3 separate regions of the Homo sapiens genome follow, and all the other regions are linked to region 3. The links come from fine-mapping of genetic effects on gene expression. A gene starts in region 3. Each other region holds a variant in brackets. All regions are shown on one strand. Distances are from middle to middle.

The links. PIP is the estimated chance that this variant, and not a neighbour inherited with it, causes the effect.
Region 1: its variant is fine-mapped to the expression of LINC02562 in esophagus mucosa (GTEx, PIP 0.93).
Region 2: its variant is fine-mapped to the expression of LINC02562 in prostate (GTEx, PIP above 0.99).

The regions. Positions count from the first base shown.
Region 1 is chr4:75,075,142-75,079,383 of GRCh38, forward strand. No RefSeq gene overlaps it. Among named protein-coding and RNA genes, the nearest start is that of LINC02562, 7.4 kb to the right of the region's middle. The variant A/T (reference allele first, on the strand shown) is at 2,525.
Region 2 is chr4:75,837,651-75,841,892 of GRCh38, forward strand. LOC105377284 (a long non-coding RNA gene) reads left to right here. Exons shown (of 5, transcript XR_938891.2): 5 at 700-1,050. Among named protein-coding and RNA genes, the nearest start is that of PPEF2, 63 kb to the right of the region's middle. The variant T/C (reference allele first, on the strand shown) is at 1,645.
Region 3 is chr4:75,082,658-75,086,899 of GRCh38, forward strand. LINC02562 (long intergenic non-protein coding RNA 2562) reads right to left here and starts at 2,051. Exons shown (of 2, transcript NR_149051.1): 1 at 1,932-2,051.

The sequences.
Region 1 (4,242 bases), 7.5 kb before region 3:
GCAAAAATTTTCTCCCATTCTGTAGGTTGCCTGTTCACTCTGATGGTAGTTTGTTTGTTTGTTTGTTTGTTTTTGCCGTGCAGAAGTTGTTTAGTTTAATTAGATCCCATTTGTCAATTTTGGTTTTTGTTGCCATTGCTTTTGGTGTTTTAGTCATGAAGTCCTTGCCCATGCCTATGTCCTGAATGGTATTGCCTAGGTTTTCTTCTAGAGTTGTTATGGTTTTAGGTCTAACACGTAAGTCTTTAATCCATCTTGAATTAATTTTTGTCTAAGGTGCAAGGAAGGGATCCAATTTCAGCTTTCTACATATGGCTAGCCAGTTTTCCCAGCACCATTTATTAACTAGGAAATCCTTTCCTCATTGTTTATTTTTGTCAGGTTCATCAAAGATCAGATGGTTGTAGATGTGTGGCATTATTTCTGAGACCTATGTTCTGTCCCATTGGTCTATATATCTGTTTTGGTACCAGTACCATGTTGTTTTGGTTACTGTAGCATTATAGTATAGTTTGAAGTCAGGTAGCATTATGCCTCCAGTTTTGTTCTTTTTCCTTATGATTGTCTTGGTAATGTGGGTTCTTTTTTGGTTCCATATGAAATTTAAAGTAGTTTTTTCCAAATCTGTGAAGAAAGTCATTGGTAGCTTGATGGGGATGGCATTGAATCTATAAATTACCTTGGGCAGTATGGCCATTTTCACGATACTGATTCTTCCTATCCATGAGCATGGAATATTCTTCCATTTGTTTGTGTCCTTTTATTTCCTTGAGCAGTGGTTTGCAGATCTCCTTGAAGAGGTCCTTGACATCCCTTGTAAGTTGGATTCCTAGGTATTTTATTCTCTTTGTAGCAATTGTGAATAGGAGTTCACTCATGATTTGGCTCTCTGTTTGTCTGTTATTGGTGTATAGCAATGCTTGTGATTTTTGCACATGGATTTTGTATCCTGAGACTTTGCTGAAGTTGCTTATCAGCTTAAGGAGATTCGGGGCTGAGACAATGGGGTTTTCTAAATAAACAATCATGTCATCTGCAAACAGGGACAATTTGACTTCCTCATTTCCTAATTGAATATCCTTTATTTCTTTCTCTTGCCTGATTGCCCTGGCCAGAACTTCCAACACTATGCTGAATAGGAGTGGTGAGAGAAGGCATCTTTGTCTTGTGCCAGTTTTCAAAGGGAATGCTTCCAGATTTTGCCCAATCAGTATGAAATTGGCTGTGGGTTTGTCATGAATAGCTCTTATTATTTTGAGATATATTGTATGAATACCTAACTTATTGAGAGTTTTTAGCATGAAGGGCTGTTGAATTTTGTCAAAGGCCTTTTCTGCACCTATTGAGATAATCATGTGGTTTTTGTCTTTGGTCCTGTTTATGGATTACCTTTATTGATTTGTGTATGTCGAACCAGCCTTGCATCCTAGGGATGAACCTGATTTGATCATGGTGGATAAGCTTTTTGATGTGCTGCTGGATTCGGTTTGGTAGTATTTTACTGAGGAATCTCACATCAATGTTCATCAGGGATATTGGTCTAAAGTTCTCTTTTTTTATTGTGTCTCTACCAGCCTTTGGTATCAGGATGATGTTGGCCTCATAAAATGAGTTAGAAGGGTTTCCCTCTTTTGCTATTGATTGGAATAGTTTCAGAAGGAATCGTACCAGCTCCTCTTTGTACCTCTGGTAGAATTCGGCTGTGAATCTGTCTGGTCCTGGACTTTTTTCGGTGGCAGGCTATTAATTATTGCCTCAATTTCAGAGCCTGTTATTGGTCTATTCAGAGATTCACCCTCTTCCTGGTTTAGTCTTGGGAGGGTGTATGTGTCCAGGAATTTATCCATTTCTTCTAGATTTTCTAGTTTATTTGAGTAGAGGTGTTTATAGTACTCTCTCATGGTAGATTGTATTTCTGTGGGATCGGTGGTGATATCCCCTTTATCATTTATTATTGCGTTTATTTGATTCTTCTCTCTTTTCTTCTTTATTAGTCTTGCTAGCAGTCTATCAATTGTGTTGATCTTTTCAAAAAACCAGCTCCTGGATTCATTGATTTTTTGAAGGGTTTTTGGTGTCTCTATCTCTTTCAGTTCTGCTCTGATCTTAGTTATTTCTTGCCTTCTGTTAGCTTTTGAATTTGTTTGCTCTTTCTTCCAGTTATTTTAATTGTGATGTAAGGGTGTCAATTTTAGATCTTTCCTGCTTTCTCTTGTAGGCATTTAGTGCTATAAAACTCCCTCTACACACTGCTTTAAATGTGTCCAGAGATTCTGGTACTTTGTGTCTTTGTTGTCATTGGTTTCAAAGAATATCTTTACTTCTGCCTTCATTTTGTTATTTACCCAGTAGTCATTCAGGAGCAGGTTGTTCAGTTTCCATGTAGTTGTGTGGTTTTGAGTGGGTTTCTTAATCCTGAGTTCTAATTTGATTGCACTGTGGTCTGAGAGACAGTTTGTTGTTCTTTCTGTTCTTTTACACTTGCTGAGGAGTGCTTTACTTCCAACTATGTGGTCAATTTTAG[A/T]ATAAGTGTGATGTGGTGTTGAGAAGAATGTATATTCTGTTGATTTGGGGTGGAGAGTTCTGTAGATGTCTATTAGGTCTGCTTGGTGCAGAGCTGAGTTCAATTCCTGGATATCCTTGTTAACCTTCTGTCTCTTTGATCTGTCTAATATTGACAGTGGAATATTAAAGTCTCTCATTATTATTATGTGTGTGTCTAAGAGCCTTTGTAGGTCTCTAAGGACTTGCTTTACTAATCTGGGTGCTCCTGTGTTGAGTGCATAGATATTTAGGATAGTTAGCTCTTCTTGTTGAACTGATCCCTTTATCATTATGTAATGTCCTTCTTTGTCTCTTTTGATATTTGTTGGTTTAAAGTCTGTTTTATCAGAGACTAGGATTGCAACCCCTGCTTTTCTTTGCTTTCCATTTGCTTGGTAGATCTTCCTCCATCCCTTTATTTTGAGCCTATGTGCGTCTTTGCACATGAGATGGGTCTCCTGAATGCATCGCACTGATGAGTCTTGACTTTTCATCCAATTTGTCAGTCTGTGTCTTTTAACTGGGGCATGTAGTCAATTTACATGTAAAGTTAATATTATTATGTGTGAATTTGAACCTGTCATTATGATGTTCACTTGTTATTTTGCCCATTAATTGATGCAGTTTCTTCATAGCATCAATAGTCTTTACAATTTGGCATGTTTTTGCATTGACTGGGACCTATTGTTTCTTTCCATGTTTAGTGCTTCCTTCAGAAGCTCTTGTAAGGCAGGCCTGGTGGTGACAAAATCTCTCAGCATTTGCTTGTCTGCAAAGGATTTTACTTTTCCTTTACTTATGATGCTTAGTTTGGCTGGATATGAGATTCTGGGTTGAAAATTCTTTTCTTTAAGAATGTTGAATATTGGCCTCCACTCTCTTATGGTTTGTAGGATTTCTGCCAAGAGATCTGCTGTTAGTCTGATGGGCTTCCCTTTGTGGGTAACTCGACCTTTCTCTCTGGCTGCCCTTAACACTTTTTCCTTCATTTCAACCTTAGTGAATCTGACAAGTATGTGTCTTGGGGTTGATCTTCTCAAGGAGTATCTTTGTGGTGTTCTCTGTATTTCCTGAATTTGAATGTTGGCCTGCCTTGCTATGTTGGGGAAGTTCTCCTGGATAATATTTTGAAGAGTGTTTTCCAACTTGGTTCCATTCTCTCCATCACTTTCAGGTACACCAATCAAACTAGATTTGGCCTTTTCATATAGTCCCATGTTTCTTGGAGGCTTTGTTTGTTTCTTTTTACTCCTTTTTCTCTAACCTTGTCTCCTCACTTTATTTCATTAATTTGATCCTCCATCATTGATACCCTTTCTTCCACTTAATCAAATCAGCTATTGAAGCTTGTGCATGCATCACAAAGTTCTCCTGCCATGGTTTGCAGCTCCATCAGGTCATTTAATGTCTTCTCTACACTGTTTATTCTAGTTAGCCATAAGTGTAATCATTTTTCAAGGTTTTTAGCTTCCTTGCCACGGGTTCAAACATCCTCCTTTAGCTCGAAGAAGTTTGTTATTACTGACCTGCTGATGCCTACTTCTGTCAACTTGTCAAAGTCATTCTCTATCCAGCTTTGTTCCGCTGCTGGTGAGGACCTGCGATCCTTTGGAGGAGAAGAGGTGCTCTGATTTTTAGAATTTTCAGGTTTTCTGCTCTGGTTTCTCCCCATCTTTGTGGTTTTATCTACCTTTGGTC
Region 2 (4,242 bases), 750 kb after region 3:
CTTGACAAAATAAATTTTCTAAAATTTCTTTTTTTTTTTTTTCCCCAGGTGGGGTCTTACTGTGTCACCCAGGCTGGAGTGCAGTGGTGCAATCTCAGCTTACTGCACCCTCCACCTCCTGGGTTCAAGTGATTCTCCTGCCTCAGCCTCCTGAGTAGCTGGGATTGCAGGCACCCGCCACCACACCTGGATAATTTTGTAGAGACGGGGTTTCACCATGTTGGCCAGGCTAGTCTTAAACCCCTGACCTCAAGTGATCTGCCTGCCTTGGCCTTCCACAGTGCTGAGATTACAGGCATGGGCCACAGCATCCAGCCAAATTTTCTAAGTTGATTGAGGCCTGTCTCAGATACTTTTTGGTTCACAGATTGGCAACCATGAAGGAAGTCAGGTGGAGATGCCCTTGACCTTTGGCAAATCTCCTATCTGGCTGGAGCTATCTTTATTGCTCAAACTAATAGGTCAATTTGCTTAGGCCTGGGAGCTGCCCCCTCCAGAGAATCCCTGATCTCCCAAAATTTGGTTGAAATCTAAGGTTTATTTTGCTGTACAACTCCTTTTCTGGAGTTTTACTCACTTTCAACAAGGAAAGTGAGCTTTTCCTGCTTCCATAATGATGGAGAGCAGGCAACTCCTTTCTGGAGTTTCAACTTGCTTTGAACAGGTAAGGCGAGTTTGAGGTTTTTTTTCTGCTTCTAGGATGGCAGAGAGCAGTCTTCATCCTGAGCCCCATTCCTAGGTAAGTAGCTGAATTGGGGTTTTGTTTTGGAAATTCTCCTTAATGGCTAAAGTTAAGATTAACAACCAGCTGGTCTTAATTTCTTCTTACCATTAGAGCACTCAGTAATCTAATATAAATTATAAATCTAATATATTAGATTTATTTTGGGTTTGACCAACTCTATCTGACTTGATCAAATCCAAAGGAAAGTTCCAAATTATGGGGAATAAGGCCTCTGAATTGGCTACATTCCTGCAGCTGAAAATAAGGAAAGAAAAAAGGGAAAAAGTAAAAGCAGCCAGGCCGGGCATGGTGGCTCAAACCTGTAATCCCAGCACTTTGGGAGGCCAAGGCAGGCAGCCTAGGAATTCGAGACCAGCCTGGGCAACACAGTGAGACCCCATCTCTACAAAAAATACAAAAATTAGTTGGAATGGTGGCATGCGCCTATAATCCCAGCTACTCAGGAGGCTGAGGTGGGAGGATTGCTTGAGCAGGAGGAGGGTGTGGGGGAGGGTGGGGAGGTGAATGCTGCAGTGAGCCAAGATGGAACCACTGCATTCCTGCCTGTCGACAAAACAGCAACAACAACAACAACAACAAGAAAATGACAAGAAAAATAAATAAAGCATGTCAAACAAATATGTCTCTTATTGGGGCGGGGGAAGGAGAAGTATAAATGTGACAAAGTGGCCAGGAATTCTCAAAGTCAAGTTTTAATCCATAATCATTTTAAGCGATTTTGATAAAAGCATTAACATTTTGCCAAGTTCTGTTTTCTCTCTACTTCATGGAAGAGCTAATTCTAAATTTATCTCCCAGGTAAAGATTAGTTTAGGAAATTTCCTTGTATAGTTGAAATTGTTTTTATTTCAAAATTCAAAGCACCCAGTTGGTATTTGGTGAGCATTTCCTGTGTGAGG[T/C]ACACCAAACCCCTTTGCCCTCCAGGTCCTTCCCGGGACAAGTCAGCAGTGCACAGGTTCCTAAGGTGGCCCTTGGCCCTGACACCAAGGAGTAAATTTGATCGGGTCTGCCTGCCTTTCTTGCTTTTGGTCCCTTGCTTTTTGTTATCTGTTTTCCTTTTTCCATGAAGCTGAAAGCCAAGATAGCTGAAGGCCTTGCCACTGAATGCTGAAACTTAACCTTCACTACTTTGTAGACAGTGTTCGCAGGTCACCATGGTAATGGGAGCAAAAAGATGGTTGTTTCTCAGGAATTTGGGCCAGCTCCTGTCTAGTTCAAACTGGTGGAAACCACCAATGCTTCAACTGGGCCTGCACTAGTGCTCAAGAGGTGGCCTTTTGATGTGAGAAGGCCAAAAACTCCACCCTCAGATCATGCTAACACCACCATTTTCTGTACGTATGTTCTATAAAATGCGATGAGCCCTGACTATACTTGTGCAGAACAAACCTGTTAACGTCTTTTTTTCCCCCAGTGCCAATCACCTTTCCCCATGCCTTAGACCATCCCACTTCCCTAACGCATAAATATCCCTAAACTTTATCTTCGGTCAGGTGGATTTGAGAGCTGTTCTCCTGTCTTAGCGCTGGGGCTTTGTGAATAAATCTTCCCTCTTTTGCAAAACCTGTGTTACAGTGATTGATTTACTGCACGTGGGCAGAATGGACCTGGACCTGGCCAATACTAGCCCTTGGTTCTGTACTCTTACATAAGGGCAAATTCTCATTCTCAGGGTGACCATAATTCCAGTGGTTAAAACTGCTGCTTAGCTTTGACACAAGAGTTTTCATTTTGCTGGGCCGGGAGCGGTGGCTCATGCCTGTAATCCCAGCACTTTGGGAGGCCGAGGCAGGCGGATCACCTGAGGTCAGGAGTCTGAGATCAGTCTGGCCAACATGGTGAAACCCCATCCCTACTAAAAATACAAAAATTAGCTGGGCGTGGTGGTAGGCACCTGTAATCCCAGCTATTTGGGAGGCTGATGCAGGAGAATCGCTTGAATCCAGGAGGCGGAGGTTGCAAGTGAGCTGAGATTGCGCCATTGCACTCCAACCTGGGGGACAAGAGTGAGATGTCGTCTCAAAAAAAAAAAAAGGAGTTTTCATTTTGTAATAAAAACCGTGGCGTCTGGTGGCTGGGCGCAGTGGTTCACGCCTGTAATCCCCGCACTTTGAGAGGCCAAGGCGGGTGGATCACCTGAGGTCAGGAGTTCAAGACAAGCCTGGCCAAGATGGTGAAACCCCATCTCTACTAAAAACACAAAACTTAGCCTGGCGTGGTGGCGTGCACCTGCAGTCCCAGCTACTCGGGAGGCTGAGGCAGAGAATTGCTTGAACCCAGGGGGTGGAGGTTGCAGTGAGCTGAGATCACGCCACTGCACTCCAGCCTAAGCAACAGAGTGAGATTCCATCTCAAAACAAACAAACAAACAAAAACAAAACCATGGCATCTTATGATGTTTTGTGATGATTATAGCTGTGGCTTCTTTGTCTCCAACTATAATTTTTGCCTTGATTAAGTGGGGGGAAAATTTTCTAAGTTAGAGATTTACAATGTGACTGTATATTAGATTTACTTTTTTGGTTATTTTGTTTGTTTGTTTGTTTTATTTTTTTGAGATAGAGTCTTGCTCTGTTGCCCAGGCTAGAAAATGGTGTGACCTCGGCTCACTGCAACCTCTGCCTCCCGGGTTCAAGAGATTCTCCTGCCTCAGCCTCCCAAGTAGCTGGGATTACAGGCACCTGCCACTATGCCTGGCTAATTTTTGTATTTTTTAGTAGAGATGGGGTTTCACCATATTTGCCAGGCTGGTCTCAAACTCTTGACCTCAAGTGATCTGCCCATCTCGGCCTCCCAAAATGCTAGGATAATAGGCTTGAGCCACCATGCCTGGCCTTATTAGACTTACTTCTAAAAATAATTGTTGATGCCTGGGTCCCACCCTCAGACATTTTGATTCACTTGATCTGGGATGGGACCAAGGCATCAATATTTTTTTAAAAAACACTCACCTCCCTAGACCATTCTAGTGTGGAGAAATACTGTTCTAAGGGACTTGAACCCTGGAGTCCATATCCTTTCATCTTTGAGTTTTGAGACCCCTGAGAGTTTCTGCTACTGGTTTCTAGGGTACCTTACTATTTGCGGGGCCAGCAGCAGGCACTTTGGTCTCTGCAATATGGTTCGCTGTAAGAATGGGAAAGTTGACAGGACATCTTGCTCTTTTGAGTACAGTTAAGGATGGTCCAGTGATCTTATACTTACTCCTAAAAGCTCAGGAAACGAACACATTACTGCAGGGCTACTGCAGACTCCTCTGAGGAAAGATGAAGAATGACAGCCCAAAGTCTAAACTTTCATCAACATCCGGTACAGAAAACCGCTGTTAGCAAATAAACTCATTAGCGTCCTATTTGAGCTCTCTTGGGGGGAATAATCTCTCACTAGCCTGAGAAACACTTTGAGAACTCTTGTTTTACATGTGATGTTGGCTGTGCAGCTCACACAGCATGGTTGAGAGCTCTCAGCTCTATTTTCAGCGGCTGTTGGTAGTAGTG
Region 3 (4,242 bases):
AAAATGTTAAATATAAATTAATGAACTGGGTTATTCAATAAAGGATGCCGGGAGAATTAGACAGCTTTATCTCCTAATCCCTCATCCTCCACCTGCACTCCATTCTATACTACTACTGATGATAGTTTGAGTAATCATGATAACACCACATACCATGGATTACCAGTGTCCCAGACAAAAAAAAAACAAGATTATTTATCTTTGCATCAAATAAGTGAGACACTCGATCCCAAAATCCCATTTTAATAGCTTATTTCTGAGACCCCTCTTGGTACCAGTTATGTAATCATTAGGGTGCTTGCAGGACATTGATGACACATTCAGACACGGTAATGGACAAAAGTTTAGCTAAATGATTATTGACAAAAATGTGGTGGAAACTAACAATAATGGCAAAAAAACCCAGGGCTAGCAACAAGAGGTCAGATACCATATCTAGGTCTAAAGGGGCATTTATCAGAATGCAGTAAAACCTGGAGCTGTCAGGTGGTCCCCTGACAGGAGCCGTGGCTTTGGGTCGGGGAGCACAGCCACTGCCAATCTGAAGCCAGACATGTAGAAAGACAGGGGAACAAATACTTCACCCCTCTCTTCTCTGTCACCCTCTGAACCTCTGGAAGCCAGAAAACAAGAGAGCCTGGTTGATCTGCTTGTTACAGATCAGCTTCCTGGGGGTTCAGAGAAGAGTAGAGAGGGAAAGAGAGTGAATCTTAAGGAATAAAGAGCAAATAAGAGAATATCCAGCATACTCACTAGGAAGTAAATATGTCATCCCAAATAATTAAGAGGAGGGCATTGTCTTCTTAGTTTGCTGAAGTTTCCCAGTAACCAGAGGATATCAGTCGAGGATGGGGCTAGATCCTTGTCTGTTACGCTGATGGGAAGGGTCTATTTATAGCTGTATCAATGGCTCCAAAATTTAAAGGAGAAAGCCACGTAACTCACATACCCTAGATTTGCTCATATTATTGTTAATCTTCAAGTTACCTTAGAATCTGGAGCCTCCATCCAATTGACTTCAATCTTTGGATTTTAAGACATGTAAATGTGTTTCCATATAACTATAAAGCACTCTGAATTTGATGGATTTCTATCTTTTATTTTCATTTCATAGGACTAAAAAACTCTTACAAATATCAAAGTGACATCTGATTGAATTCTTGATATCTCTCAAGTCTTTGGTTTTGCAATCTAAAGTAATTCTACATCTAACGTTGCTCTATTGTTCATCCTCAATAGCAGATGACCTTGCACCTTTCCATTATATTTCTACACTCTTGGTGCTATTGAAAGCGAGCTACTTTATATTCTCTGTTTTATAGCTTCTGCTTTCTCATATCTTCTGCTTACTAATGGTTTTCTCTGTCTCGTGGGAATTTTGCATGCATTTTCTCGTCATATCCTTTTGCTACTAACCAGCTATATCTTTGTTTACAATCCCAAGACAAGTTATAAAAGAGACTTCTTTGTCCAGTCATTCCCATTTGGACAGAGCTATCATGCAAGGCCACCTCATAGCCTCCTAGCTGGTGACTTGTGAAATTGGTTCCCTGAAGATTGTTTCTCTTGGGATAGGTGCACACCTCTGGCTCATTCAGTGGCAGCCAGAGTAGATAAGTGGAGTCACATGACAGAGCATATGGAAATCTGCACAAGAAGCTAAATAGGACTCTTCGTTCAGAAGGTGTCAGTGGTAATGACGGATACCTGTATTGGTCTTTCCATACGAGAGTTGAATAAAACAGACAAAAAAAAATTTTAATTTTAGAACTATAAGAAAAAATAGGTGGATATTTATGTAATTTCATTGTAGGAAAAGTTTTTAAAGCATAAATACAAAGGGAAAAATCCTAAGGAAATTTATTAATATATACATTAAAAATGAATTAACTTTATATGTTAAAATATTATAAGGTTAAAAAGAAACTTACTAGGTGTAGTAGCATGTGCATATAGTCCTAGCTATTTGGGAGGCTGAGGCAAGAAGATTTCTTGAGCCAAGGAGTTCCAGTCCATGCAAGGCAACATAGTGAGATCCTGTCTCAACTGAAAAAATATATATATATATAATAGCAACTACTTGGATAAATGTATTTGCAACATATTGACAGGTATTTAAATTATTGCTATGTTAAGAAGAACTTGATTTTAAAAACAAGATGAACACCCCGATAAAATAATTGGCACAGATGTTGAATGGAGAATCTGCAAAAAGACGAAGAAGAAGGAAGGAAGGAAAGAAGGAAGGAAGGAAGGAAGGAAGGAAGGGAGGAAGGAAGGAAGGAAGGAAGGAAGGATCAACTTTGCCAATAATCAGAGAGATAAAAACCAATTTAACAATGTTTTGGCAGACATAGCTTATGCTTCTCAGGTTAGGGGTATTACTACGGTAGAAAATGCATTCTCCAGAGTTTTTGGAGGGTCATACAAGAATACATATGAAAGCCTTAAAACTATGCCCACAAAAATACTTTAACTTCTAGGAATTAATCCTAAATCTTAAGTAAACAATTAAGAATAGAGATGCACCATTTACATACATGGCTTTTCATAATAGTATTATGTATTATGGGTATATACCCAGTAATGGGATGGCTGGGTCAAATGGTATTTCTAGTTCTAGATCCTTGAGGAATTGCCACACTGTCTTCCACAATGGTTGAACTACTTTACAGTCCCACCAACAGTGTAAAAGTGTTCCTGTTTCTCCACATCCTCTCCAGCACCTGTTGTTTCCTGACTTTTTAATAATCGCCATTCTAACTGGTGTGAGATGGTATCTCATTGTGGTTTTGATTTGCATTTCTCTGATGGCCAGTGATGATGAGCATTTTTTCATGTGTCTGTTGGCTGCATAAATGTCTTCTTTTGAGAAGTGTCTGTTTATATCCTTCGCCTACTTTGTGATGGGATTTTTTTTTCTTACAAATTTGTTTGAGTTCTTTGTAGATTCAGGATATTAGCCCTTTGTCAGATGAGTAGATTGCAAAAATTTTCTCCCATTCTGTAGGTTGCCTGTTCATTCTGATGGTAGTTTCTTTTGCTGTACAGAAGCTCTTTAGTTTAATTAGATCCTATTTGTCAATTTTGGCTTTTGTTACCATTGCTTTTGGTGTTTTAGACATGAAGTCCTTGCCCATGCCTACATCCTGAATGGTATTGCCTAGGTTTTCTTCTAGGATTTTTATGGTTTTAGGTCTAACATTTAAGTCTTTAATCCATCTTGAATTAATTTTTGTCTAAGGTGTAAGGAAGGGATCCAGTTTCAGCTTTCTACATATGACTAGCCAGTTTTCCCAGCACCATTTATTAAATAGGGAATCGTTTCCCCATTTCTTGTTTTTGTCAGGTTTGTCAAAGATCAGATGGTTGTAGATGTGTGATATTATTTCTGAGGGCTCTGTTCTGTTCCATTGGTCTGTATCTCTGTTTTGGTACCAGCACCATGCTGTTTTGGTTACTGTAGACTTGTAGTATAGTTTGAAGTCAGGTAGTATGATGCCTCCAGTTTTGTTCTTTTGGCTTAAGATTGTCTTGGTGATGTGGGCCCTTTTTGGTTCCATATGAACTTCAAAGTAGTTTTTTCCAATTCTGTGAAGAAAGTCATTGGTAGCTTGATGGGGATGGCATTGAATCTATAAATTACCTTGGGCAGTATGGCCATCTTCATGATATTGATTCTTCCTATCCATGAGCATGGAATGTTCTTCCATTTGTTTGTGTCCTCTTTTATTTCGTTGAGCAGTGGTTCGTAGCTCCCCTTGAAGAGGTCCTTCACATCCTTGTAAGTTGGATCCCTAGGTATTTTATTCTCCTTGAAGCAATTGTGAATGGGAGTTCACTCATGATTTGGCTCTCTGTTTGTCTGTTATTGGTGTGTAAGAATGCTTATATTATGAAGAAAATAAGCAAACAAGAACATTTTTAAAGGAAACAAGGTTATGGTATACAATAGGGGATTAGTTAAATTGTGGATAGTGGAATACCATGCAGCCACTACAATTTATGTAATAAATAAAATTAATGGCATGAAAACATGTTCACAAAATATTGGTGAAAAAAGTAATTATAAAAAATAATATGAAAAATATGATCATCATTTTTATTAAAATGTATATGTTTATATGACATATGAACATAGTCATAAACAACTGCTATTGAGAGGTGACAGTAGAGTAACCTTAGACATAGAATGACCTTAGATTGTAAATCCAAAGCCACAGGAAATATCGAGAATTTAAT